Regions from separate parts of the Homo sapiens genome. Here regions 2, 3, 4, 5, 6 and 7 are each reported to be linked to region 1. Evidence: microRNA targets listed by miRTarBase, many of them from high-throughput screens and not tested one by one. Region 1 holds a microRNA gene; each other region holds the end of a gene's coding sequence.
Evidence for each region. Region 1 holds the annotated microRNA hsa-miR-6885-3p (CUUUGCUUCCUGCUCCCCUAG, at 2,714-2,734, shown strand). A microRNA usually pairs through its seed, bases 2 to 8, with sites in the 3' UTR of a target mRNA and lowers its output. Matches are read on the target gene's strand: a 7mer-m8 pairs with bases 2 to 8, a 7mer-A1 pairs with bases 2 to 7 and ends in A, and an 8mer does both.

Region 1 (4,000 bases):
AGTTCACAATAATCTCCACATCTTGGGTTCCCCCAAATCTTCGTCCCTCCATCTGCTCTTCTTCTGCCTGGGGTCAGGAGAGGATGGGTCTAGCTTCTCTGGCAGACTGGGAATCCTTGGAGTCTTCCGTATCCAGTGTTGCCAGGCAAAACAGGCTGAATGAAGCTGGGTGGGTTTGTTGAGTGAATTGAATTGAATTAATGATTCAATTGAATGGAATGATTGAATTGAATTAATGGTTCAATTGAATTGAGTGATTGAATTAAAGTAATGATTTGATTGAATTAACGATCCAGTTGGGTGGTTGATTGAATTAATGGTTCAATAGCATTGACTGATTAAATTAATGATTGAATTGCTGTATTGGATTGACACTACCTCTTCTCATCCACTCCAGGAATACAACCAAAAAATATAACATCATGGCTTTTAATGCAGCCGACAAAGTCAACTTTGCTACGTGGAATCAGGTAAGTCTCTGAGTCCTGGGGGTCAGGGGCTGGGGTGGTGAGAGAACTTGACCCTGACCTTGGTGGTTGTGATAGTTGCTTAACTGTCATAGTCACTAAGTCTTAATTTTCTCACTTTTCTCCAAGTGAAGAAAAGATAGATGACAAAGGGTTGGGTGCAGTAGTTCACACCTGTAATCCCAGCACTTTGGGAGGCTGAGGCAGGAAGCTTGCTTAAGGCCAGGAGTTTGAGACCAGCCTGGGCAATACAATAGCAAGACCCCAACTCTACAAAAAAATTAAAAAGTTAGTTGGGGCTGATAGCGTGGGTCTGTAGTCCTACATAGGAGGCTGAGGTAGGAGGATCGCTTGAGCCCAGGGGTTCAAGGCTGCAGTGAGCTATGATTGTACGACTGCACTCCAGCCTGGATAACAGAGCAAGACCCTGCCTCAAAAAAAAAAAAAAAAAAAAAAAAAAAAAAACGGAAATGGCAAAGGCCCAGGCCTAGCTCCTGGGTGTCCCTGTAAGTTAGGTTTGGTAGGCCCACCAGAGGCCTCTCCTTAAAGGAGAACATTTAGAAGCTGTGCCCACTGTTGGACATTTTTGGCCATGGTTTATCTGGGCAAGGGAGGGGACTGGGCTGGGGGCTTTCCCAGAGCCCCTGCCATCAGAGGCTCTAGAAAGGACTTTGGGAGCCATTAAAGCATCTTCAATTGGGAAGTTGTAGTGTGTGTGATCTGGCTGCTATGGGGAGACAAACTGTGGGTTTGAGGGCAAATAAACGGAGACCAAGGTAGAAGCAACTGGACTGGTCTAGGTGAGTCCTGGCAGGGCACTGGAGGCAGTGGAGGTTATGAGATGTGGCTGATTCTAGAGTGTTTTGGAAATGGTATATATGGACCTTAAATCAAGAGCTTAAGGGTAATTCGGATCACATTAGCCATGTAGGTCACGATAAATTGTTAATTTGTAGAGATTTTGGTGCCTTAATGTCAGCAAGTGTTGCACAATGAGTTTCTTTTTATTTATTTTATTTTATTTTTTTGTGATGGAGTCTCTTGTCATCCAGGCTGGAGTGCAGTGGCGCGACCTGGGCTCACTGCAACCTCCACCTCCCAGGTTCAAGCCATTCTCCTGCCTCAGCCTCCCAAGTAGCTGGGATTACAGGCGCCCACCACCACGCCTAGCTAATTTTTGTATTTTTAGTAGAGACGAAGTTTCGCCATGTTGGTCAGGCTGGTCTTGAACTCCTGACCTCAAGTGATCCACCCGCCTCAGCCTTCCACCATGCCCAGCCTTTTTATTTTTAGGAAATAGATATAGGATCTCACTATGTTGCCCAGGCTGGTCTTTTTTTTTTTTTTTTTTTTTTTTGGGGACTGAGTCTTGCTTTGTCGCCCAGACTGGAGTGCAGCGCCAGGATCTCGGCTCACTGCAAGCTCCGCCTCCCGGGTTCACGCCATTCTCCTGCCTCAGCCTCCCAAGTAGCTGGGATTATAGGCGCCTGCCATCATGCCCGGCTTATTTTTTGTATTTTTAGTAGAGACGGGGTTTCACCGTGTTAGCCAGGATGGTCTCAATCTCCTGACCTCGTGATCCACCTGCCTTGGCCTCCCGAAGTGCTGGGATTACAGGCGTGAGCCACCGCGCCTGGCCTTTTTTTTCTTAAGACAGAGTGTCACTCTATCACCCAGGCTGGAGTGCAGTGGCATGATCTCGGCTCACTGCAACCTCCGCCTCCCAGGTTCAAGCCATTCTGATGCCAGGCTGGTCTTAAACTCCTGAGCTCAAGTGATCCTTCTGCCTTGGCCTCCCAAAGTTCTGGGATTACAGGTGTGAGCCACAGCACAATGAGTTTCGATATGCATGCATTCTGGAGAGATGTGTGGAAATTCTAGGTACTTAGACATTTTTTGAAAAGAATCCTGGAACCAGATGCCTGCTGTAGATAATAGGGAAGTCTAATTAATTACTTCTACATTCCTCAGATAAGGAATTTTGCCTCCGATGGCCTGCTTGATGGTCACCAGGTGGTCTTTTTCTCTTTAATTTTAATTTGGAAATAATTTCAAGCTTTTAAGTTGCAAAAATAGAGCGCAAGGCTCGCCCAAATTCCCTTTACCCAGATTTGTCAAAGGCTACCGTTCTCCTCCCTTGTTGCCAAGTGGTAAGTTGGTTTTGAGAATCTAGAGCTTGGCCTAGGGCAAGGAAGGGCGTTCCTGGAGGGGGGCACTGCGCAAGCAAAGCCAGGGACCCTGAGAGGCTTTGCTTCCTGCTCCCCTAGGCTCGGCTGGAGCGGGACTTGAGCAACAAGAAAATCTACCAAGAGGAGGAGATGCCCGAATCGGGCGCGGGCAGTGAGTTCAACCGCAAGCTTCGGGAGGAGGCTCGGAGGAAGAAGTACGGCATCGTCCTCAAGGAGTTCCGGCCCGAGGACCAGCCCTGGCTGCTCCGGGTCAACGGCAAATCAGGCAGGAAGTAAGTGGTGGGGCGGTGGCGGTGCCGGCTTAGTGACCAGTCCACATCCCCAGGCCTCAACTTACATACTTTGTGGGGTACCCTCTCTGAACCTCAGATTCCCACTGCTGCAGTGGAAGTGCTGGCACTTCCATCCCTGTAGGATTTTATTATTTATTTATTTATTTATTTATTTATGTTATCTTATTTTACTTACTTGTATTTTTTTGAGACAGAGTCTTGCTCTGTCGCCCAGGCTGGAGTGCAGTAGCACGATCTTGGCTCACTGCAACCCACACCTCCCAGGTTCAAGTTATTCTCCTGCCTGAGCCTCCTGAGTAGCTGGGATTACAGGTGCCTGCCACCACCACGCCCAGCTAATTTTTGTATTTTTAGTAGAGACAGGGTTTCACCATATTGGTCAGGCTGGTCTCGAACTTGGCGATCCTCCCGCCTCGGCCTCCCGTAGTGCTGGGATTACAGGCGTGAGCCACCGTGCCCAGCCTACTTATTTATTTTGAGACAGGGTCTCACTCCGTTGCCCAGGCTGGAGTGCAGTGGTGCGATCGTAGCTCACTGCAGGCTCCAACTCCTGGGCTCGAGATCTTCCCACCTCAGCATCCTGAGTAGCTGGGACTATAGGCACGCCCCACCATGCCTGGCTAATTTTTGTATTTTTGGTAGAGATGGGGTCTTGCTGCGTTGCTCAAGCTGGTCTTGAACTCCTGGGGTCAAGTGATCCTCCTACCTTGGTCTCCCAAAGTGCTGGGATTATAGGTATGAGCCACTGCCCAGGCCCTGGGGTTGTGTTTTTGAAGACAGTTCACTGAGTTGGTGCTTGTGCCTGGCTCTGAGGCAGCTCTGAGTGCCACAATGCAGGAAGCTTAGGTGGCCAGCCCTGGGAGCTCATGACACTTGAGATGACCTCTCAGAGGGGGCAGACTGAGGGCAGAACAGGAGGGGTCCAGGTTAGGTTGATGAAGGGTGCTCCAGGCACAGCAGTTGGGTGATAGTGACAGACACAGGCAGCTCACACAGGGCAGTGGGTGCCAGGATGTGCTGGGTCCAGCGGAGCCTTGGAAAGCTGTAGGCA
Region 2 (4,079 bases), not on the chromosome of region 1:
TCATCAATACTGACCTGGCTAAAAACAAAATTCCCAACAAACACACAAAAATCCCAAAACAAATGTATACGCTACGGTAAACAAAAAGGCATTTTGTTCAGATGTAAAATATGTTTTGTGAGATTATTGTCAAACAAATTTTCATGTATAAAAGACCCAAACATGTCATTCCCCCCAAAAATAAAAACCAACAAAAATAAAAATCATCAGGACGGAATGTCCCAAAGAAACAGGTATTTCAAGGCAGAAATCTGCAATCCTAAATTGCAGGACATTTGAGTGGAACCATTCATTTCCTTTCTAATCAGAGCATTTCTGTTTATCTGCACAGAAACCCAAGGCAGCAGAAAGGCTGTCTATTTACTCACTGATTGTGATTTGCCCAGGAAAGTTTGCTGGTTTGGACAGCAAGCAGATCCAATATGGTTGGCAATGTCTCTGTTCTGCTGGAAGAAACCCATAAACAGGAGAAAGGCTGACAAACCATGTTCCTTTATGTGAAGGGGGAAGAACTGGACCTTCTTGTGTTCTGAAATTTGGTACTGGGTGGGGGTATGTGCTATCTGCTTAAGAGAACACAGGAAAAGGAGGAGGGAGAAAGTGGGGTTTGGAAGATAGAGGAAGAGAGAAAAAAAGGGAGATATTGGGGGGAAGAGAGGGAGGGAAATGTATTTTCAGATAGTGAGAAAAAGAAAGAACTGAAATATGTATCCATGTTGAAATCATAAATAGGGACATGAGTAAGCAGTAGAAATGGCTTATTCAATACTTCTCCTGGACCAGACACATGCAGTTATTACATGATTGGCTTAAGGGTCTCATTGATACCTTAACTTTCCTGAGGGCAATGAATAAAAAGATACCTTAATCTACCTGAAGTCAATGAATGCAATTTTTCACACACACACACACACACGCACACACACACACATACAAAAATGTGTTGCGTGAGACCTATCGCCAAAACAACTACAGTTTGATTTTTTTTGAAACAATTAAATACTATATATGCTGGTAAGAGTCTGTGAAACTCTAAATGACCAATCCAGTGAGCCTACAATAGTGACAAGCCCCCTCCACACATGGCTTTGAGAGTAAAGGTTCAATGTAAAAGATTATCTAATCAGAGCATGAGGCTGGTTTTGAGTTGGAATATCTTCAGTTAACAGAATTAAACTGAAAAACATAATTTTTTCCTTCATTTTTCTCCAGCATTTTTGCAGGTCAGACATGGTAACATGTGCTGAAAAAAAACATTTACGTTTAATTTGGGGGAAATGGGCTAATGGTGCTTTTCAGAAATTAAATTTTTACATTTGCTGACATTTTATGGTAATTTAGCTGCAAAAATGTAATACGGAATAATATATGAAACTGAGTTGTGGAGGGAATCCTGTCAAAAATGAAAGTGAATATATTCTGAGTTTGTCCGAGATCTGCTATAGCTCTTCTCTAGATAAGAACGACCTGACAACATAAGCTGCTTTACTCTTTAACTCTTACCAAAGTGCTACTGCATGTGTGTAAAACAAATAATCAATATATATATAAGAAAACTCAAAAACAAGTTGTTTTAAATAAGTCCAGCTGTTTTTGCTGCCTGCAGCCAAAGATTTGCCTAATTTGAATGCTTAAATTTATAAAATAAAAATCAAACACTGTTCTGAAGTCCTGCTTTCAAATACTCTTCAGAGTTGACCTGAAATCGTTTCAACGAATTTTAAGAGGTACGTTAAATAACCACCAGATCATTTGGAGCACACATGTGTCAAAATCAGCAGTTAGTATTTATGAGTTGTACAACAACTGCATTCTGACCAAATCCTCCAATAAAAATAGTGCCATAAAATTTACAGCGACATTGGATACCTTTGAATTGTAGCCACGGACAGTAGTGACATGAATCTTTCCTGTCACACTGGTGCACAGGTAAAAGCCCATATACCCCATAGGGTAGGGTCTCAGCCTGGTGAAAGCAACACAAAGATGTTGTTGAGTGAGCAGCACAGGACAGGGGGTCTCGCACAGGTGGGACCATGTTTTCCCACTTGTCTCCACTGAGGCACACAGAGGCAAATTGACTCCTCGAGGCCTGCTTCTGGTGGGCCCTTAAATTGCTATAATCGTAACCCCTAAATTCATTGATTTGGTTCCTATGTAAATGTGGCTCCCCTACACAGTTTACTTTGGCTGTGTTCTGTTACACAGCATCTGTGAAATTATCAGATGACCTTGGGGTGAGCAAATCCCTGGGCAGAAATCAAATCCTCTCCAAAGATGTAATTATTGGCACCTGCCTCAACCCTCTGGAACTAGATTGACCTTCTCTGTTTTAAGGAGGAAGTTAGATATGAGACCCTTGTTGAGCCTGGCAGAAAATTCCATACTTCTGATCCTTGGAGTGACCCTCAGTGTCTAAAAATCCTATTAAAAACGTTGCTGCGTGAGCTACTCACTTGTTTGATTAACATGAAAGGGAGTTTAATGTAAACAATACTTCTGGATAACCAAGCGATCACATTACTCATTCTTTTTTTCTAGCCTTCTTCAATGTGATACATTTAACTTTGGCTACTATCAAGAACAAAAGAAAATGTAGTACTTGATATTTTTCTTAATATAAGTACATTTAAATAATTAAAAAATTATCAACACATAAATGTCTGAACATCAAGATACATAAATATCTGGGGATTCCTTGTGGGAATACAGTAGTTAAAAATGACCCAAAGCTGTAGCTGTTTCTCAAAAAAACAAAACAAAACAAAAAAAAACAACTACCCAAAAGTCCAAAAGAAAAGTTAAATAAAACTTAAAGAAAAGGGAATCATATTTCTTTCCATGGTCAAAGCAAGAAAGAAGCAAGCTCAATTTATATATATTTATATAAACGTATATAAAAATAAAAACCACCCAAATGCAAATACGCATTTTGCAATTGATAAGGTGCGGAAAAATTAAAAATAAGAATTAGATGCCAAACAGGGCGAGTTGCATCCCTCCTCTCCCCCCACCCCAACCAAAATTCCACACTCTTTGGAATAAACAACTTGGTTAAAAAGTTAAGTCAAGGGTATAAAATCTTTCTTTTTATTCACAGCATTGCTAAATCAGAAGCATTCACAGTTTCCCTCCGGGAATCTTCCTGTTTGCTTTCCAGCGCGTCCCCTGGGTGCTGGGGCCGGCGGACACCCTCGAGGTGCGTCGCCTCGGACACCTCCGCGAGGGCCGGGGCGCCAGCAGACGGCGGCGGCGTGGGCTTCTGGGCGCAGGAGGCTGCGCGGGCCTGACCTACAGCGAGATCCTGGCCGTCGGGCGCCCTCGGCCCCAGGACGGTGGCCGGGCCCAGGGCCCGGGATCCCGGCGGGCTTGTCGCGAACAGGAGGCCCGCGCGCCCGGAGGCGAAGGCGGCGGCCCGCGGGGCCCAGCCGGGCCAGGCCTGGCGCCTCAGTAGGGCCTCCACACGGCCTCCTCCAGGCGCGCGGAGGGCGCCATGTTGGTGGGGGAGTTGCTGTGGCTGCCCTCGGCCTCCACCACGTCGCTCTGGTTCGGGAGGCTGGGGTTGAGCAGCGCGGAGCCGGTGGAGGCGTTGGTGCAGGGCGGCAGGATGCGCGGCGGCGAGCGCTCGCCGCCCACCATGGAGAACTGGTAGGAGCCGGCCGAGGCGCCGTAGTACAGGTGGTAGGAGGGCGAGCTGGCTTGGAACGGGCCTCCCTGCGCTTGCGACGAGCCGGGGTAGGGCGGCGGCAGGTAGGTGTGGTAGCGCGTGGCCGAGCCCATGGCCGACATGCCGATGCCGATGCCCGAGGTGACCGGCGTCGGGGAGTAGGTGAAGGCGCCTGGATAGTGCATGCGGGGGTCGGAGATGGAGGGCAGCGCGGGGAACTGGCGCGGGTCGCTGAACGCTGTCAGGTCGGGTGCCGCTGCAGGGCGGGCAAGAGAACGGAGCGGAAGTGAGTAGGAGGTTGCGGAGGCCACAGCTCTTCCCTCTGCCCCAGGGGGCTACCCAGGATGATACCGCCTAGGAGGATGGGAAGCCACCCAGGATGCTACTGCTGGGGAGGACGGGGACCACCCGG
Region 3 (4,079 bases), not on the chromosome of region 1:
GTCTTTCTTTTTAAGGGTTTCACTTCAGAATATGTGTGTTTGTGTATGCATGTGTATATACATATGTAATAAAAATCAGATATATTCAAAAGTAAAATCATTTCTCAGAAATTCATAATTGCAAAGGTAAGCTCATATAAATTCACTGAAGAACGATAAACAAATAAATAAAGGAGATGAACTTACTCATGAAGAAAACTTCAAAGACAGTTTGAAGAAGTATTAAGTTGGGTAAAATTATTTGCAGGTAAGATTTTTACTTGGAAAATAATATATCACTTGAAAAACTATTACTCACTATGAAGTGATTCAGCATAAAATAAATATATGGAAATGGAGTGCACATATAAACAAGAAGATCTTCTCTTAGAGGATATAATGGAAGGAAGATTCACTTAAAATCACAATAACTGATAAAACAACTGGAAATAAACCCACCTCTGGCTACATATTAGAATCATGGCTGGAGGGATTGACCAGCAAGACAACAATAATAGCACAGCAGGCCCAGGCTGTCTCAGAAGCTCTAATCAAGTGGTGTAGTGTAGAGCCTAGGGGGGTATTTTTTAAAGTCTCTGCTTTTCAAAAATTTTTCCGGACAAATTGATCTATATGAAGAAAACTTAGACTACTACTGAGGGATATAAAAGAAGACTTGAATAAAGGGAAAAACATGCTAATTATTTAGAATAACTATCATAAAGAATTAAATTCTCTCTAAAGTAGGTTATACATTTAATGATTTCATTTAAAAGCCAACAGGACTTTTCATTTTTGTTACTACACAAACTTATTCTAAATTTGTATGGAAAAATCAAGAGTTGCTAGGAAGGACAATTCTGAAAAAAGAAAACTATTGCAAAGGGACTAGTCCTACCAGATACTGTCTACCAGACTAATAAAATAGACTGGTCTGGCTGGGTGTGGTGGCTCATGCCTGTAATCCCAGCACTTTGCGAGGCTGAGACAGTCAGGTTGCTTGAGTGCAGGACTTTAAGACCAGTCTGGGCAATGCAGTGAAACCCTGTCTCTATAAAAATTTAAAAAATTAGCTGAGTTTTGTGGCGCGTGCCTGCGGTCCCAGCTACTAGGGAGGCTGAGGTGCGAGGATCACCTGAGCCTATGAGATTGAGGCTGCAGTGAGCAGTGATTGTGCCACTGCACTCCAGCCTGAGTGACAAGGGAAGACCCTGTCTCAAAAAAACAAAAAACAAAACAGAAACAAAGAAAATAGAATGGTCCAGTGGAAAATAAAATGTTCAGAAATGGCATAAGTATAAATGGGACTTTGGTATAGATAAAAATGGCATCGCAAATCAATGGAGGAAAAGATAATGTACTCAACCAAAGGTATTATATGATGAAGTGACATTTTTACGAATGGGAGAAGAGACAGTTTACTCAATAAAAGATCAATGGGTAGGCATATTTAAAAAAACAACCAAAGTTAGATTTCTAATATGTTTAATACATTCCAGCTGGGTCAAAGATCCAAAGGTGAAAAATAAAATTATAAAAGAAGACAAGTGGAGGCCAGGCGCAGTGGCTCACGCCTGTAATCCCAGCACTTTGGGAGGCCTAGGTGGGCAGATCACCAGGTCAGGAGATCAAGACCATCCTGGCTAACACGGTGAAACCCCATCTCTACTAAAAATACAAAAAATTAGCTGGGTGTGGTGGCGGGTGCCTGTAATCCAGCTACTTGGGAGGCTGAGGCAGGAGAATCACTTGAAACCGGGATTGCACCATTGCACTCCAGTCTGGGTGACAGAGCGAGACTCCGTCTCAAAAAAAAAAATGACAAGTGGAGAAGGCCATTCTAAATATGATACAAAATCCCAAAAGCCACAAAAGCAAAGATCTGTAAATTTTGTACTAATATTTTTAATTGACAAATCATAATTGTATATACTTATGGTGTACAAAGATTCATAAATTTGCTTACATGAAAATAAAAATTTCTACATATCAAAAAATACCAGAACAAAGTCAAAAGACAAATGACAATGACAAACTGGAAAGAAGATATTTGCAGGATCTCTTACAAAAAGCTAATATCTAAAGCACACCTGTAATACAAAACAAAGACCAACAACCAACAGAAAAATAGGCAAAGAATAGAAATAGGAAAGGCCATGGTAAAGCAGATTCCAGTGGCTGTTAAATACATGAAAATATGCTCTACGTTACTCATAAAAAGAAAAATAAAAATAGAACATTTTTATCTGTTAGGTTGGCAAAGGATAAGAAGACATGCATTGATGGTGAGATTATCAGTTAGTATACCTTCTTTAGAGGTAATTTGTAGTATCTAGTGTAATTTTGCTAAATATAGTCTTGACTCAGTAATTTCACCTCTAGATATCTACTGTTAAGTGAAAAAAAAAAGGAAAAAGAAGCAACATGCAGAACAATGTGTGCAGTATGTTACCGTTTGTGTAGGGGGAAAGGAATATATACATTTGTTTATAAATTTGTGGCCAATCTCTAAAAATGCGTAAGCAGGTGGTTTCGGTACTTGCTTCTTGGAGGGGGAACTGGATGGCAGGGAAGAGGGAAAGGACAGAGACTTCACGATCACTGTTAACCCTTTTGTACCATTTGAAGCTTTTACCCTGTATATATATTACCTATTAAAATAAAACAGTAACAAAATCAGGTACATCCAGGGTTTACATCCCGTTAAATACTCCAAATACTCCCATTAAATACATCCAAACAATCCCATCAAATACAAGTAACTCATCGAGCACCATCAAATGCTCACATACAACTATTTTATGATACATATTATTACAATATTTTATATTCTCTATTATTTAAAGGAACATAACTGTTACAGTATTTGCTTCAATTCTTTTGATACTTCCACTAAATTGTTAGAAATTGTACAAAGGCCTAAATAATAACCATTTTTGAAAATATGTGATTTTATAATCATTGGCATTTTATCTTAAAATACACTACATTCTTACAAAATAATGAAAAATTGGTAATTATTATTATTTTATTTTTATTTTTTTGCGACACAGTCTCACTCTGTTGCCAGGCTGGAGTACAGTGGCGCAATCTCAGCTCACTGCAACTGCTGCCTCCCGGGTTCAAGCGATCCTCCTGCCTCAGCCTCTGAGTAGCTGAGACTATAGGTGTGCACCACCGCGCCCAGCTAATTTTTGTATTTTTAGTAGAGACAGGGTTTCACCATGTTGGCCAGGATGGTCTCAATCTCTTGACCTTGTGATCTGCTTTCCTCAGCCTCCCAAAGTCCTGGGATTACAGGTGTGAGCCACTGTGCCCGGCCAAAACTTGGTAATTATTAAAACTGTTTCATTTAAAATACATAATTATGATCTTGTAATATATTTATATGTATCTCTAGAACACTATTTTTAAACTTTTTGTTCAAACTGCTCTTGGATTCATATGGGTTTTAAGCCACTGATCAATTGCATTTTCATACTTCCTTGGTTCCTTCTGCCAGTCTTGGTGCCACCTAAGATTTGCTATAACGTTTGAATAATTCTGTCCTATACTTTGTTTCCACTTGATAAACTGCTCTTTATTATACTGGTGGACAGAAGCAGAAACTTTAGGGTAGTTTATAATGGAATGAAGCTTCTGATCCAAAGAATAAGTAATTTCTGGAAATTTTACAGCAACATTTGTTAATTCATCTGGATCCGAGGAAAGATCTGAAAGAAAAAAAATAAGTATCTGTCAAAATAGTGACCTGCTAAAAATTTTTTTAGAATGTCATTATGACAGGTAATGTATTAGATTTTTTTTTTAGATTTTCAGTTCCTGTTAGTGTAGTAAAATGAAGGACAGTATAAATGGTAAAATAACATACCAGGAGTTAAACACCCTATGTTGCATGCCCAAATTCCCTCCTTCCTACCATTGTCCAGCTATCCCACTTTTTTTTTCTTTTCTTAAATGCCAGAAAAAGTCAAACTTTTATCATTAGTAAGCTGGTTTAGAACAAGTTCTTCCTGTTTTTGATGTCCTGCCTACTTTGACAGGCAGAAATGAATACAGTAATGCTTATACTGTACCATTTTAACAGCCTCAAACTTTCT
Region 4 (4,079 bases), not on the chromosome of region 1:
CTTCTGTTAATTCATGCCTGTCTCCCTTAGATGCTAAGCCTCATGAGGACAAAACAAAAAAAACCAAACAAACCCAGCCTAACCCCCAGGGAGGGAAGAGGGGAGACACATATGCAGCTCCACAATGTAATTCATGTAATCCATCCCAGCACTAGGATTTAAGAATGCATGTTTAGTATATTCCATCCCATTAAGGCAGTGGTTCCATTTTTTTCTGCATCCACCTCAAGTCAGTAGCATCTCACGGCTATAAGAACACCTACCCAAGACATAACTAGGTTGCTTTGCTTATGTACAATAACATGAGAAATTAGAAAAGCTGTTTTAAAATACCAGGAGGCATCTACCTTACAGTAGATTACTTGTCAATGGCCTCAATATCTGAAGATTTTAAGTTACAATCCCTGCATCCCTCTCCAAACTAAAAGCCAGAATGCTTGAACCTGAAAGAATTCCTCTCCCCTAAACAATGCTTGATTGGAGACTGACAATGTTCATCTAATACCTTCTAGTTGACATTACTGATCTATCTGGTCAACCATGTTGTAGTATATATATTTGCTATGAAATTCCCAGTGGAGCATGAGATACATGCTAATCCACACATTTTACAGATGAAAGGATTGAGATGTCCAAGGAATCTGCAACTTGCCTAATATCAATCAGCAAATGGCAGAGCCAGGTTTGTACATTCTTGCTGGCCTGGGAGCCACTGCTTCTCAGGTGACTCAATCTTTACCTTGGTATGTCAATCTTATAGCAAAACTTCAAAAAGGCAATGTTACTTCCTTTGCTTCTTGATTTTATCAGAAACCTTATTGCTGCTAAGTTCTGAAAACTGCCCACCTTACAAATGAGGAAATCAGAGTGTAGAGAAAGTAAGGATTTTTTTCTCTCTCTTTTTTTTTTTTTTTTTTTTTGAGACGGAGTCTCGCTCTGTCACCAGGCTGGAGTGCAATGGCGCGATCTCAGCTCACTGCAACCTCCACCTCCCAGGTTCAAGCGATTCTCCTGCCTTATCCTCCCCAGTAGCTGGGACTACAGGCGCACGCCACCACGCTCAGCTAATTTTTGTATTTTTAGTAGAGACGGGGTTTCACCATGTTGGCCAAGATGGTCTTGATCTCTTGACCTCGTGATCCGTCTGCCTCGGCCTCCCAAAGTGCTGGGATGACAGGCCTGAGCCACTGCACCCGGCCAATTTTTTCAACGTTACACACCCAGCTAAGATGAACCTAGAACTAGAGTCAAATCTCAAACGTTCTAGACTAGAATTCTTCCCACCAGGCCATTGTCTTTACCTTTGTAAGCCTTTAAATCTTGTCCTTATAGAAAACTTCTGCTTAAATAGGCTCCGAATGCCTCAGTCCACACTCTGACTGGGTTAACATAGGGTCTTGTTTCCCAACTCAAGGGACAGAAATGTTTCTGTGTTAGAAGAACTGTGATTCTTTCTAGCAGAAATTAGCAGAGTAAGTGTTTTTGGAACAATTGCTAATGAGAAGGAAATCTGAATAGTTTCCTGAAGTATAAAATCTCAAGTGTTTGTTTAGGGTACAAACTGCTATGTAAACAACACAGAAATCTCAGTAGCTTAAAAAAAAAGATTCCTTGATCATGTCATAGTCCAGTGTAGGTGAGCTGGGGCGAGGAGGGAAGTGTACATGGGGAGCCATCCTGGGACTGAGGCTTCACTAGTCTAATAGAAGGGCTGATGGCCAAAAACTAGGCTAAGAACTGCTGAGCTAGTGGCTTCACCTTCCCTAGGGCCTTGTAATCTTCCATCAGTTCCTTTGCATCCCATAGGCTGAGGAGGGAAGAAACAGCATGAATGATCTTTTGGAAAGTGGTAGAGGGCCACCTAGAAGTGACTTACATCAATCGCTTCTCTCCACAGTCCATTGATATGGACCCCGTCAAACTGCAGCAAAAACTGGGAAATACAGTCTCTCTGGGTGCCCGGGAGGAAAAGGAAGTGGGTTTGGTGAACACATAGCATTATTTCTGCTACACTGTCAAACACATTATTTATTAGATTGTATCAATACTACTGTTAGTATTATTAGTATTGGATTGTACCAATAGTATTATTAGTATTGGATTGTACCAATAGTATTATTAGTATTGGATTGGATTAGTATTGGACTGGATTAGTATTTATTAGATTGTACCAAATACTAAATGAAACAATGATACTAAATGCTACAAATACTGCAAATTTGTAAAAATACAAATACTATTAAAAATGACACAAATATTATACAAATACTACAAATAGAAATGTTATAATAGAAATACTAAACGATACAATGAACCAAATGATACAAATATTAAACTGTATGGTGATAACCAATATTAAATGACTGAGTGATATACAACACTAAATGGTACAGTGATACAAATACTAAATGATACACTGACACTAAACAATACAATGATAACAGATACTCAGCATCTGTTCATGTACAAAGCATCTCCTTGATCTTCAGCCTGAGAGGAAGAACTGCCTGCACTGAGAGAACTGCAGAGATGGCTGGCTGCAGGGTGGCTGCAGGGATTGACTCTCTGCTCCACCCATAAAAAGATGGTTACAGGTGCAACATCACTGGCAAGAAGAGATGAAGAGATAGGATGGAGCCTGTGTTAGAGAAGGTAGTAACTGGTTCTCCCATCATCAGCTAAGAAGAGAAAGGCAACACAGAACTTTTTGAGCTTTTTTTTCCTTTTTTTGAGACAGGGTCTCACTGTATTGCCCAGGCTGGAAAACAGTGGCACAATCACAGCTCACTGCAGCCTCAACCTCCTGGACTCAAGGGATCCTCCTGCCTCAGCCTCCCAAGTAGCTAGGACTACAGGTGTGCACTACCACGCCTAGCTCATTTTTTTATTCTTCATAGAGATGGGGTCTTACTATGTTGCCCAGGCTGGTCTTGAACTACTGGCTTCAAGCCATCCTCCTGCCTTGGCCTCCCAAAGTGTCGGGATTACAGGCATGAGCCACCACACCTGGCCCGCTTTTTGAACTTTACTGAAGCTTATATACAATTCTGCCAGAGTTGTTTTCCAAAATCATCCAACTCTAAAACATATTCTTTTATCTAAAAAAATCAATTGGTTTCCATACCACTCATTAAATAAATTATTAACATAATTGGTTAACTAATTGGTTAACACAACCCCTCCTCAATTCTGGGGATAAGATTATGCCTCATTTTGAGGAAGGTGAAAGGCTTGACGGTGAAATTGAAATGCAAAGAACAGAGTTCAAGGCTCATGGTTAGGTTGTTATTCCCAGATCCTAATACAAACCAGCAATGGTGCTATTCTGAGCCCTTATCCACAGGAGGTTAGATGCCAAAAAGGACTCTGAGGTCAGCCAAGGTGAGCTTGGTGACAGATTCTCCAGACCCTGATAGAACTTGTTTGGCCAAATCTTTCTTTTTTTCTTGGAGCTGTAAGATCTTTTCTTCTACTGTTCCCTCACAAACAAATCTAAAAAACAAAAACAAAAAATAAGCAAACTATCAAAAACCCTAAGCAGCACATCTAATAATATATTCAAACTTTTATTATGCTTTCATTTTTAATGAGATTTCTTCCTTTAAGTCTTCTTAGGTCCAGTTAAGAACCCTGTCTGAGGAATCCAAACAACCTTGACTAGATATATATCCCTTTAAAAGGATGTGACCCACATTGGCATTTTAATACTTTCTGAAGCTAAGGTAATTGAAACAAACTCAAAATAAGCAAAAGATATCCCAATCCAAAAAAGTATAGAGATCCAGCTTTTACCCAAAAAGTTCTACCTTGGTAAGTCCATAAGGCCTCAAAGGTTATCAAATTTCTGCTAGTTTAAGTAGAGTATTTCTTAGTGAATTCACAATAAAAACAGGGTTTTCAAACCAAGTAAATGGCACTGTTGTCATTCATTCACTCATTCAAAAGTATTGATTAAGCACTCACTACACTATGCTAGGTGTGGGGATGGAGAGATGAATATAGTCTTGCTCCAAAGCAGAACAAAAGCGAGACAAACATGAAAATAAACAATAATATGACCTGGTAAGTGCTATAATGGA
Region 5 (4,079 bases), not on the chromosome of region 1:
GAGTAGCTGGGACTACAGGCACATGTCACCATGCGTGACTAATTTTTGTATTTTTAATAGAGACAGAGTTTCGCCATGTTGCCCAAGTTGATCTTGAACTCCTGGCCTCAAGTTATCCACCCACCTTGGCCTCCCAAGGTGCCAGGATTATGAGCTTGAGCCACCACGCCCGGCCTGTGTTTGGGTTTTCTTAGCCAGCCAAATACCTGTGACCTTGTGCAGGATTCTGTTTTATCCCAAAGGAATAATTTTGGACTTTAAAGTTTCAAACGCTAAGAAAAATTTTTCAAGTTTTTTTTTTTTTTACATAGATCTCATGGTTTCTGGCCTTTTTCTTCAAGGCAGCTTTCCACGGAGCAGGCTGTTCTGCAAGAGTCGCTGGAGAAGGAGTCGAAAGTCAACAAGCGACTCTCTATGGAAAACGAGGAGCTTCTGTGGAAACTGCACAATGGGGACCTGTGTAGCCCCAAGAGATCCCCCACATCCTCCGCCATCCCTTTGCAGTCACCAAGGAATTCGGGCTCCTTCCCTAGCCCCAGCATTTCACCCAGATGACACCTCCCCAAAGTCCACAGACTCTCTGAAAGCATTTTGATGCAGGTCTGCAGGACTGACCCCAAGGAGGAACGTGGGCACAAGAGGTATATCAGCACACGTGTGATCACCGTAGGGTAACTGGAGCGTCACCACCGGCGGAATCGCAGCTTCTGAGACTGGAACTCTGGAGGAAGACTTTTGCCTCCGTCCAAAAGATTCCTCCAAAAAAAGATTTAAAAAAAGATTTCGGCATCGACACGGACGTTGTTGCACAAAGCACTTAAAGAACGAGAGCATCTTGTTCATTGCCTTTTTCACCTAAGCATAGGGGGAAAAACTCTCAGGGCCCTATTAAGATTTATAACCTTTGTAATGTTCTTCACCACAGACACCTTCTTGTGAGTTTTCAGTCTGACTGTGGGGGTGGGGGGTGTGAATGAAATGGATGTCACAGAGTGTCATGTGTCTGATGCAGCCTCCTCTGCTGTGTATTAAATGTCAAAATCTGAATATATCTGGATATGTACTAATCAAATAATAATCAATCAATCAGCATATACATTTCAGCCAAAGCCATAGAAGAAAAAGCAATAGTTGCTTGAATTATGATCATCTACCACCAACTCTGCTCAGCCCTGTAACAGGGTAGGGAGAGGGTATAACAGGAAGAGCTTTGACTTGTCCCTGTCTATACATTCTCTGTATCTTTTGGGGGTAACTTCTTGGCAGTTTTTCAGTGTTCAGCCATGTCAGTTGAAACTAGATTTTTCTGTAGATTTTTTACTTACCCATGTGAGCCTAACACTATCCTGTAATTCATTTTCTCAGGCTATGTGTAAATGTAGAACCCTAATTTTTCTATAAAAAAACAAACTAACTAACTAACTGTGTAAAGAAAGAAAAAGGGAAGTACCAATGGGTTTTTCCACCTTATTTTTACCTTTGATCTACCCTTGCAGATTTAACCTGTCTTCTTCCCTCCCATTATTCTCATTTTCCTTTTACCTTTCTCCACCATCCAGAGCCACAAAAGCAAACCTTCTACCTCCTACCTACTTTTCTCTGGGACAAGGATAAAGGAATATGATTTTCCAGAGCCCCAGAGCCAGCTCATCTTCCAGGTGCTGAAACCACTTTCCAAATAAACTAAAGCCTGGATTTGATATTACAAATTTTGGGAAATCTTAGAATAAAGAACGAGAACAAGGAAGTCATTGGCTAGTATAATTAAGAAAGGTAGGATTCAGTGCTTACCGATGATGCAGTACTTGATAGAAGAAAACAGTCTGGGAGGATAGCGCTCATTTTTCAGTTACCCTTTAAGGAGTCCCTTTGTCTTTGGGAAAGTAGCAGAATGGTCCGCTTCTTTCCCATGAGTGGAAAATGTGGCTTGTCCAACTCTCCTCCAGGTTGCATTTCAGTTTCTTTCCAAAACTTATTACCTCCCCTAATCCTGAGACTTTGGAAAAGGTGGAAGGAAGAACTGTTGCTTTATCTCCCCCTCCCTGCATGTGTCAACATTGTGATGTCAGTATTTACTAATCTACATTCAGTGGCTGTACAAATAACAGCTGTAGTAAGAAGAGATTCAGGATGCTAGAGGTGAATATTTGGGTCATTTACATGTACACTACATAGCAAGTTGATACTCATGTTGCATGTTCTTTTAAATTAGTGATTTTGTGTCTTAAGTCTTTAACTTCCAATACTTCATCATGTATGTAACCTTCCATGTTTGCTTCTGATAAATGGAAATGTAGGTTCACTGCCACTTCATGAGATATCTCTGCTCACGCTTCCAAGTTGTTCTCAATGACATTAGCCAAAGTTGGGTTTGCCATTCATCCCCTAGGCATGGTAAATCTTGTGTTGTTCCCTGCTGTCCTCCGTATTACGTGACCGGCAAATAAATCTCATAGCAGTTAATATAAAACATCTTTGGAGGATGGGAGAGAACAGGAGGGAAGATGGGAAACAAAATAGAGAATTCTTAAGATTTTGTTTAAACCAAATGTTTCATGTAGAATGCAAAATGTTGGCACGTCAAAAATATGAATGTGTAGACAACTGTAGTTGTGCTCAGTTTGTAGTGATGGGAAGTGTATTTTACTCTGATCAAATAAATAATGCTGGAATACTCAAGAATTGCATCCTCTGACCTACTTCATTCTTCAAATTCTTCATTTTTACAGCCCTGTGACAGCACAGTAAAGGTCGTATCTCCTCTTAGTTTATATTTCCCAGGAATTTCCACTGCAACCGCAGAGTTGGTCATGGGCTCACAGAGCTAGAGTGAGAGGTAAGCTCTTCTTCTCTAAATTCAAAGCTATCTATGTTTGACAAATAAATTTTGGCTGGCTGTAACAATTTCTGCTGTATAAGAAAATTGGACAAACTTGGTAAATATTTTTGAATATCGTAAAAAATGTCTAAACAAAGTTGAATGTTCTTAATCTATGCATCTATTTCATATTGAAAGCTAAACTTCTAAAAACTTGTTCTAGTTATTGAATAGACTAATCTACAATTACACCTTTGAGTGCAGCAGTTTAAAAAAATGAAGTGTCCTTGAATTTTTTCAGTACCTTCATAAATTAACTCACATTTGTTAAAGTTGCTACTAAGACAAAATGACATTTCTAAGCATTTGAGTCTGGAGTTGTTGCTTGTGGGTAAGTAGTTGAACTGTATCTAGTACATTTTAAAATTCTAATATATTGCGGTGATATAAAAGAGAATACTTGGTATTGACCCACGTATCACCACCACCAAGTCTTTCTGGATGTATTTTAAGTCAACTTAACTTAAAAAACACTTATCCCACTTTTTATTTTTTACAAAAACGTGCTCATTTAATAGAAATGATTGATTATATAAAATTGTTTACACATGTATAAAAACTAGGAACACGTATGTAGGTAAGCAATCAAAATCATGCTTTCTGTTAGAAAAGTTAACACTTCTGTGAATAGACTGGATGACTTCCTTTTAGTTTGGATGTCTGGGTCGGACTCACGAGACGCTGGGGTTGGGGTGTGGTGCTTGACATCAGCCTCTGGCAAAGCACTAATAAAAGGAACCCCAAAGCTGACTGTGTACACAAATGGGCTTTCCATAAGTTCATTACATTTCCTTTTCCAAGTCAGGAAAACTCAACAGTGGTAGCTACTGTGGTCTGTCCTTGAAGATTCTGAGCAGTGCAAATGTAATATCCTGCATCAATCGTCTCAAAGTCTTCCACTGTAATGACACTCTGGGAGATTCTCGTGGTGTGTCCCAGTCCTCTGTGGATCAACCTCCAAGTGTCTTGGATCGTCACAGGCCTTTCATCCTGTTTAACGACACCCACAAAGACTGAAGCAAGAGGGACAAGCTGCTATAAAGAGCTCCCACTCACCCAACACTGTTGAGCGTTCCTTTCAGAGAGCAAAGCACATGCTTATAAAAGACTGTTTAGTATGCGTAGCTCATAAGCTGTGGAAGCTTCTACACTGGAATCATTTTAGGTTGCATTTTTTCCAAACAGCCCTTGAATTTCATTA
Region 6 (4,079 bases), not on the chromosome of region 1:
GTCTTTCTTACTTTTTCCAGCAAGCGGTTGTGGGTGGACTTTCCAATCCCCTCTCCTTCCCTGGGTACCTCACCCTCCCTGGCTTCTGTGTTACAGATTCTCAGCTGGCTGAGTGCCGGGGCCCTCCTGAAGTCGAGGGCGCCCCGCTCTTCTCACTCACTGAGGAGAGCTTCAAGGCCTGCCACCTGACCCTGACCCTGGATGATTACCTATTCATTGCGTTCGTGGGCTTCGTGGTCTCCATTGCTTCTGTGGCCACCAACTTCCTCCTGGGCATCACTGCCAACTGCTGCCACCGCTGGAGCAAGGCCAGTGAAGAGGAAGAGATCTGACATGCCTGCCTCTCATCCCTCCATGCTGCTGACCGCCACAGCTGCTGGCCACCAGACGCCCTCCCTGACTGCTCACTCTGGTTCCATGGTGACCTGGCTGCCTCAGTCATGGTTCAAGCAAGGTGGGGACACTCATTTTGTATGAGCATCTGCTTTGGGCCAGGCGGCACGCTAGGAATTGGGAACATCAGATGAACTGACTCAGTCCCTGCCCTCAAGGCACTTCCCTCTGGTCAAGGAGAGAGATCCAAAAACTATTCCCTTTAAGACTATATGTCAGGACTCTGAGCACGTCATTATGGAGGCCCAGAGGAGGAGCCATCATCTGTATCTAGCAATGTCCATGAGAATTATAAGATTAGAGTGATTTGTGAACTGGGTCATCAGGAAATATCTACTTTGTCAGGTAGGCAAAGAAGGGTGTCTGCACATGGCAGAGGCCAGAATATGCATAGTGTGCTGTGTTGAGAAGAGTGAACAGTTCCTGGTCACTTACTTGTATAGAGGGGGTGTGGCACAGAACTCAAACCTACCCCTCACCTCCTGACACCAAAACTGTCAGCTCTCAGCAATGCCAGCCACTGCCTACAGGGAGTAAGAACACCTCTATGACAGCCCCTGGCCTCCTTCCACCAGCAGCTACCAGGTGAGACCACCTCCCAGTGACTGCCCCCATATGACCAAATGTCACCAGTTGGTGAGGTCCCAGGCAGCAGGCTGAGGATGGACACTTTCAATGCCCTTGCTCCTGCCTCTCACTCAAGTTTTGCTTCAGAAGAGAGAGGCAGGAGGCCCAGCAACTGGGGCAGCAAGAGTCCTGGCACCTTGGGATCCTAATCATGTGACTGTTCTTGCCACAGTGCTCATGCCACAGGGTCTCACCAGGAAAGTGCACTGTGGGCCACAGACCCACAGCCTGGCAGCACCCAGAGCTAAAAGGGGACAAAGGCAGCACAGTTATGACCATATGAGGCTTTGCATTTTCTTCTAAGCAACTTACCCACGTTAAGCATGAGGGTGAGAGAGCTATTAAATACTAAGCCCTTGCCAGTGTCAGGTACTTTGAAAAGCTCTCTGCACAAACCATTCCCTTTGACACACACACACACAAATCTTTTGAGGTGAACGCTGTTGTTCCCATTTTACGGATGAGGCAACTAAGGCTCAGAGAGGTTAAAGTCACATGCCACTATGAGCAAGATAAAGTCTGTGCTCTTTCTACTGCCCCATCCAAGTTGGGGAACATCACCATTCCCTCTAGAGTTATATAAATTCAAATTCAACTAGAGCTGACAAAGTTCCTCATAAGGTCCAGGCACTCCTCTGGGCACTTTTATATCTATTGACTCACTTCTTTCAATTCTCACAGCAACACTGCCTGGTGGTTTTTATTATCCCCATTTGACAGATGAATTAATCGTAGAGAGTTGAGTGACTTACCCAAGGTTGTCTGGATAAGCCCTAGAAGGAAGGCGGTAGGCAGCTCCATTCAGGGAAACTGCATCTAATCAGTCAGTCAAAAATCAAGTAACTTTACGAGCAAAGCACAATTATCATCATCGTGGTCTTCTTCATCAGTTTCGTCAGCAGCATCATTATCTTCCCTCTATTTGTTCAGCACCGGATAGTTCATGAGTATTTTTGCATCATTCTCCTTGACTTTTCACATCCCTGTGCAGGAGGTAAATCAAACATCAGTAATCCTGTTTTACAGATGGGGAAAAAAGTCTCAAGGTTGGATATGACTTGCTATGTGGCAAGGTTGGGGCTCAACCCTAACACAGTTCTCTTTCCAGTGCTTTCTCAAGTGCTTGGGGAAGAGAATGCCTCAGAAGGCTGGGTAGTGGGGCCCTGGAATTCAGCATCCATGAATGTGCTAGTGGATAAGCTAAATAGAAGGCAGCCAAACCCATCTGCTGTACAGATTGAACTATGCTCACGGTAGGGCAAATTGCAGGCTCTGAAACAGAGACTACACAGGTAACACCTGAATAGGAGACTCCTGCTTTACAATGTGTAGATAAAACATCAGCAATGGTGGCCATGGTGGCAGTCATGTGAAAAGTAAGATCTTTGGGAATCAAGAAAGGAAGCTGTGTTAACCACTCCTGCTCAAGCCCTGCTGCGTGTGTTGCAAGAGATACTAAGAGAGCAAGAAAGCTATAGGTGAGAACCTCTGCAGTTTAGGAGAAGAACATCAAGGCACAGTCCAACATGCTGATAAGTCTGGCCAGGAGGAGAATTAAAACAGGGGCTTTCCACACCTCCCTTGCCCCAAGCTCCAGCGGTATTCTATCAGCCCATCCTCCTGGAAAGCCTGAAAGGAATGAAGGAGGCTAATAAGTCATCTTCCAGGAAGGCATCCCTCACTCGTGCTTCCCTGAGCTAGTCAACCAAAAGAGTCTTCAGAAACTTTGCTAGACCTGAAGTACTTGAACCTGTGTCCCCTGAATCTTTCTTACAACATCTGGGACAAATCCCTGGCCCTGTGACATCCGAAGCAGAACTGTGCCCTGCTCTCTCCTTCTGTGATGACCAAGGATGGTGAACTCAAGTTGTTCTCTACAAGCCAGGCCAGCAACCTAAATACTTGGAGAGGAACTTTTAGAAACTATAATCCTGACAAAATAGAAAAGTTTCCCATAGGGGCATACCATAATACTATAATAACCTCCCAGGAACTATTGTTTGCCAAAATGTAGTTAATATATTTTAAGATATATGCTTTTTTGCATAGGACTAGAACCAGAAAAGACACCAAATGCCCCCTTGACATCAATGTCCTTTCTAGTGGGACAATTTGGTCTCCATTAATGCCAAGCCTTTCTGAACAGGATACATGGCTTTTAAAGGACAGATGTTTCTCCTGCTGCTAGAAGTTCCTCAGTTTACTAGAGCACAATGAGGAAAGTATTCAACCTCCCTACTGCCAAGGAATTCCCTGCTTCTCCCCCACCGCCATCATCTTGTCCAAGCTATCAGAAGCAACCTTCTAGAGATAATCTAACAATCCTGATTAGAATTGCTCCCATATCCCTGGTGACCACAGGCTTCATTCAAATTGTCCAAACTGGTTAACATGTATGTGATGGGGTATCTCTGCATCTGTATGTCTGTCTGCGAGGTTCCTTGTATATTGGCTGTCCGCTGACTTGGGACAGATCTCTCTAGAACTTGGGTTCAGTTCTCTGACATAGTCCACTCAGCCATAGGCTGAGTGGCTAAATATGCATAAATAAGCATGCCTAAATAGGCATATATAGGTTGGTGCAAAAGTAATTGCGGTTTTTGCCATTAAAAATGATAGCAAAAATCCCAATTACTTTTGCGTCAATCTAATATTACATTGCTTGATAGATTAAGATGGAATCCCACCAGGTTTAGGGTAGGACTGGATGCTCAAAAAATAAAGAAGGAGAAAAATCTGTGGCAGAGGCATCCTAATGAGAACCTGACTTCTCCTTGCTTCCCTCTGCTCTCTCCTGCGCCTCAGAGACTTGTCCCCATTGCAGAAGCTTCCTCCATGCTAGGCCAGAGGATATCAAAGTTTAGTTTGGTCAAGATTTGGGCCAAGAAAATTCCTTTTTAGAAGAGCCCTCATATCTGAATCACATCACTTTGGGCCAGTTATCTCTGGTCACCCTCAGACAAACCCTCGTCTCTTTTTCTCCCTTCCTAGAGGAATTCCCAGGGAACTTTGCAGAAATAGGTCTCCAGAGTTGCTACAGAGGTTCATGGCTCCTTTCG
Region 7 (4,079 bases), not on the chromosome of region 1:
ATGAAACCCCATCTGACTAAAAATACAAAAATTAGCTGGGTGTGGTGGCGCGTGCCTGTAGTCCCAGCTACTCAGGAGGCTGAGGCAAGAGAATCGCTTGAACCAGGGAGGCGGAGGTTGCAGTGAGCTGAGATCATGCCACTGCACTCCAGCCTGGTGACAGAGTGAGACTCCATCTAAAAAAAAAGATGTACTTTCTTTACTCAGGTACCTTTACTCACAGGGTACAGGTAGCTTCATTATAAGTGGCCCCAATTCCTCATGACTAAAGTTTCTTTTCATTGATCGTAAGATTCATCCCACTTTCAGAATAGTTAAAAATTGACAAATGGGAGGTTGAGTATTTGCCAGACCTGAGGTGGGAGTCTTGCAGCTGTCATCTAATTATGATCCACAGTGTGGATATAGGATGCGAGATATACAGTCATGCTAGTGAAATTGAGAGCATCAGTAACCCAAAATCAATGGTCTTTCCTTTTATTATTCAGCCTATAGTGGTGAAAAAAAATGCTGGAACAGATCAGGGCACTGCAGGAAACAATGCAAAGATGGAGAAGCAGTGAAAGATACATGCAAAAATCTTCGAGCTTGCTGCATTCCATCCAATGAAGACCACAGGCGAGTTCCTGCGACATCTCCCACACCCTTGAGTGACTCAACACCAGGAATTATTGATGATATTTTAACAGTAAGGTTCACGACAGACTACTTTGAAGTAAGCAGCAAGAAAGATATGGTTGAAGAGTCTGAGGCGGGAAGGGGAACTGAGACCTCTCTTCCAAATGTTCACCATAGCTCATGACTTCCTCTCGGCTATCACTCACCCCTGTCCTCAGAGTGATAAACTAAGTCACATACAGATAAAGCACTGAAAACACCACAGTGACCCTCCCACCCCCCACCAATATGTAATTCTATTAATAGAAACAGCTGTGTAAAGAAGTCTAAAATTTTCACTATTTCCAATGATAAACTCTTCAGTGCTCTTCTTGAAATGTCACATTATTTCCACAACAAGTTATAACCTATTTTTAGTATTTCTTGTTTGCTAGTGACCTATGCACAACTTCAATAGCTTAGTTAGCTATTCCAACAACAATTTCTTCATGTATCGTTCTGTCTTCTCAACAGCTGTCTTCATGGCAGCATAAGTGGTCATGATCAAAATTCTAAATCTTTGCATCTGTGAGAGTAGCTACTATGACACTAAAAGCTTTTTTTCTAGAACAGGAGACACTTCAGGTGAAAGCATTCATTCTCCTACTAACTATGGCCTTGGAGCCAGGTTTTATCTCTCACTGTAGGAAATTGGCCGCCCCAGGTGTGAGCTATGAAGACTCCTTTTTGCCCCAGTGGCTTTGGGGTTGAAATGCTGTCGAAAAGCTTTTATGGCTCTGTAGACCCATCTTTTTGACCAAGCCTTGATCACACATGGACATCCAAGGGTAATCATGGACCCCCAATTGTGGGTGAAAGGATGGATCATTTATCTACCTGATTACTGAGAGCTTTATTTGTCTCCCTCTGATAGCAAAAAAAAAAAAAAAAAAAAAAATCTTCACATCCTATCCCATCCACATAACTCTACAACAGACTTCATTTTACAAATTTTCCAATCTTGCTCTTTCCAAGTACCTAAACAACCAGCCAATCTATTACCAGCGTTCATGAATTACTATAGATCCATACCAAGCCTTCCTTCTACTGGAAGGTTTTCCCTTAACCACTGTCTTTTGGGCCACTGCCATATCATGCTGTAATGCAGCACTTCTGTCTGGTGCTAGCATGTCATGCAGACCATTCCACAAACCTGGCCTTGCTTTTTCCTCCTTTATTAAGTAACCATAGGAACCCCTCATGATACCATTAGTGTGTGATGAAGAAGAGGCAATAAAGCAGGAATGGGTGCCATAGGCATCTGAACCACCTGCTTCTGCAGTTTATGCTTGCCAGACCTGCTAAGTTCCAATTTTGAACATATTACTTTCAACTAACATTGGAATTCTTCTTCACAGGTCTAATTGTATTATTCAAGGGGTTAGATAATACCTAATTCATGACGGGAAATTTCTGTCTCATTATTTTTTTAAACTTGTTATTCCTGATAATTCTGAAATTTGAAGTCTTTGAAAGTCTGAATCTCTAGACTGATTTCTGCTGACCTTAATTCATGGTGCCTTATTTCCTTGTGTGTTTTGTGATTTGGGGCTCTGCTCTGTTTATTTTCCTCAGAAGTTTAGTTGAGTAAACTAGTTGAGTCCTGAGTTAAAGGTCTACTCCTTTGTTTTCTTCTGTCTTTTTGGCACTACTAGTCTGGGACAACTTTAAACTTGATTTTTTTTTTCATACGACCCATGTACTGTGAATTCAGGCTGAGAGACTTTATGAGATCTACCTTGAGGTTATAAATTCTCAGTGAAGATTTTTTTTCTATTTACTGAATACTTAGGTTCATAATCAGGCAATTTTCCTTGAAAACCTCTGGTGAAGGAAAAGGAATGTTTTATGTATCTGCTTTATTTTTACACAGCATACATAACACTTTAAGGACTGAGATTTATATAGGGGTCTCCTATTAGACTCGCATATTTTTTCAGACCCTAGTCACTGCCTTCTCTCCCCTGCTTACCCCCACCTTGGCCAAAGCCATGGAAACCAAAACTCAAGTTCACCTGATTCAGCAAGTACCTTTGTGACAAAAGCTAGCGTCAGTTACTGCCTGTGAAAGAGTGCCCACTTGCACTTGGTTTTAATATTCTTTTTTTTCTTTTTTTCTTTTTTTATTTATTTTTATTTTTTGAGACAGAGTCTCAATCTGTCGCCCAGGCTAGAGGACAGTGGCGCAATCTCGGCTCACAGCAACCTCCGCCTCCCAGGTTCAAGCGATTCTACTGCCTCAGCCTCCTGAGTAGCTGGGATTGCCAGTGCACGCCACCATGCCTGGCTAATTTTGGTATTTTTAGTAGAAACAGGGTTTCATCATGTTGGTCAGGCTGGTCTCGAACTCCTGACCTCGTGATCCACCCGCCTTGGCCTCCCAAAGTGCTGGGATTACAGGTGTGAGCCACCGCACCCAGACGGTTTTGATATTCTTGGCCTTACTTTCTTGCAAGGTTAAAGATGCTTTAAAAGTTTTGTTGTATATTTTAAGTAAGTTTTTTTCACTGTTTTCAGTGGGAGGATCAGCCTGGGTTCCTCAACCAGTATTCTTCCTGAAACAGAGGTCCAGAACCAACACTTTTGTCCAGATCATAAACCTTGTTGTTGGGATGGGTGGCAGCACCAGAGGAAGGAGAAAAAAAGATCATTGTCAAAGGATGAAACTATCACTCAGTGTCTAAAACCAAAATGCTGAAATGATTGCTTTCTTAAGAACAGGAAAGCCATGCTGGTCCATCATAAGCTCCTTCACCAGAGTGAAGTGTTGAACTTACACAGCATTTGGGGAACACATTTTGAGGGAGTTGTGTTGGTTACAGAGGTGGGAATTGGTTAATGACAATTTAGAAGTGTGTACACTGAAATGAATTCAAAGCTGATTGGCATAATCAAAGCATAAGGCTGTCACTGACAATGAGCTTTCAGAAGTGTGTTCACTGAAGCAAGTTGTCGTTGATCAATGAAAAAAGTTTAAAACAGTTCAAGGTATGTACTTATTATCACGACCATAGGACTGTCAGCCTTTTCCTAGGAATGTGGAGAGTTTTTATTCTCAGAAGAGAAGAGTAACCCCAGAAGAATCCAATGAGACAAATAACAGAAGAGGAACCCCAAAAGATGATGTAGAAGGGGGAGCCTGAAAGTTAGGAAGAAAACAAAGAGTGAAATCACAGAACCCTAGGCAGTTAAGGTTTTCAAGGGGGGAATAACCTATAGTGGAAATGCTGCCTAGAGGCAGATTGAGATACAAGTTGAGGAACATTCTGAAACTTTCAAAACGGAGGTCCAGCTACACTTGTTTATATTTTTGTTTAACTTGTGGACAAAGATTTATAGACAGGTGCAAAAAATAAATCCTCTTTTGCAACCCAGAACTCATTGTTCGGTATGAGTTTTAATACATATAAGAAGGGATATTA

Region 2: the mRNA of RUNX1 is a reported target of hsa-miR-6885-3p. Seed matches in the 3' UTR shown: 7mer-m8 at 3,149-3,155 and 7mer-A1 at 1,592-1,598.
Region 3: the mRNA of ARSK is a reported target of hsa-miR-6885-3p. Seed matches in the 3' UTR shown: 7mer-m8 at 2,845-2,851, 7mer-A1 at 2,321-2,327 and 7mer-m8 at 1,937-1,943.
Region 4: miRTarBase lists TTF2 as a target of hsa-miR-6885-3p. Seed matches in the 3' UTR shown: 7mer-m8 at 790-796 and 7mer-m8 at 284-290.
Region 5: the mRNA of MTUS1 is a reported target of hsa-miR-6885-3p. Seed matches in the 3' UTR shown: 7mer-m8 at 1,568-1,574.
Region 6: miRTarBase lists LRRC55 as a target of hsa-miR-6885-3p. Seed matches in the 3' UTR shown: 7mer-A1 at 3,638-3,644.
Region 7: the mRNA of DEFB118 is a reported target of hsa-miR-6885-3p. Seed matches in the 3' UTR shown: 7mer-A1 at 1,530-1,536.

What each region holds. Positions count from the first base shown.
Region 1 is chr19:6,388,372-6,392,371 of GRCh38, reverse strand. MIR6885 (microRNA 6885) reads left to right here and starts at 2,669; the gene lies at 2,669-2,734. GTF2F1 (general transcription factor IIF subunit 1) reads left to right here. Exons shown (of 13, transcript NM_002096.3): 3 at 398-470; 4 at 2,735-2,928.
Region 2 is chr21:34,788,688-34,792,766 of GRCh38, forward strand. It overlaps RUNX1 (RUNX family transcription factor 1), which reads right to left. Exons shown (of 9, transcript NM_001754.5): 9 at 1-3,923. The coding sequence ends at 3,448. Among named protein-coding and RNA genes, the nearest start is that of LINC01426, 45 kb to the left of the region's middle.
Region 3 is chr5:95,602,850-95,606,928 of GRCh38, reverse strand. ARSK (arylsulfatase family member K) reads right to left here. Exons shown (of 8, transcript NM_198150.3): 8 at 1,827-3,692. The coding sequence ends at 3,403. Among named protein-coding and RNA genes, the nearest start is that of GPR150, 15 kb to the left of the region's middle.
Region 4 is chr1:117,100,793-117,104,871 of GRCh38, reverse strand. It overlaps TTF2 (transcription termination factor 2), which reads right to left. Exons shown (of 23, transcript NM_003594.4): 23 at 1-3,492. The coding sequence ends at 3,348. Among named protein-coding and RNA genes, the nearest start is that of MIR942, 8.2 kb to the right of the region's middle.
Region 5 is chr8:17,642,402-17,646,480 of GRCh38, reverse strand. MTUS1 (microtubule associated scaffold protein 1) reads left to right here. Exons shown (of 15, transcript NM_001363059.2): 15 at 342-2,679. The coding sequence ends at 555. It overlaps PDGFRL (platelet derived growth factor receptor like), which reads right to left. Exons shown (of 6, transcript NM_001372073.1): 6 at 3,337-3,868. The coding sequence ends at 3,680. Among named protein-coding and RNA genes, the nearest start is that of MIR548V, 37 kb to the left of the region's middle.
Region 6 is chr11:57,187,149-57,191,227 of GRCh38, forward strand. LRRC55 (leucine rich repeat containing 55) reads left to right here. Exons shown (of 2, transcript NM_001005210.4): 2 at 97-4,079. The coding sequence ends at 332. It overlaps LOC105369309 (a long non-coding RNA gene), which reads right to left. Exons shown (of 7, transcript XR_007062670.1): 4 at 1,773-2,003. Among named protein-coding and RNA genes, the nearest start is that of LRRC55, 7.2 kb to the left of the region's middle.
Region 7 is chr20:31,372,369-31,376,447 of GRCh38, forward strand. It overlaps DEFB118 (defensin beta 118), which reads left to right. Exons shown (of 2, transcript NM_054112.3): 2 at 489-1,555. The coding sequence ends at 802. LOC124900462 (small nucleolar RNA SNORA40) reads left to right here and starts at 3,951; the gene lies at 3,951-4,078.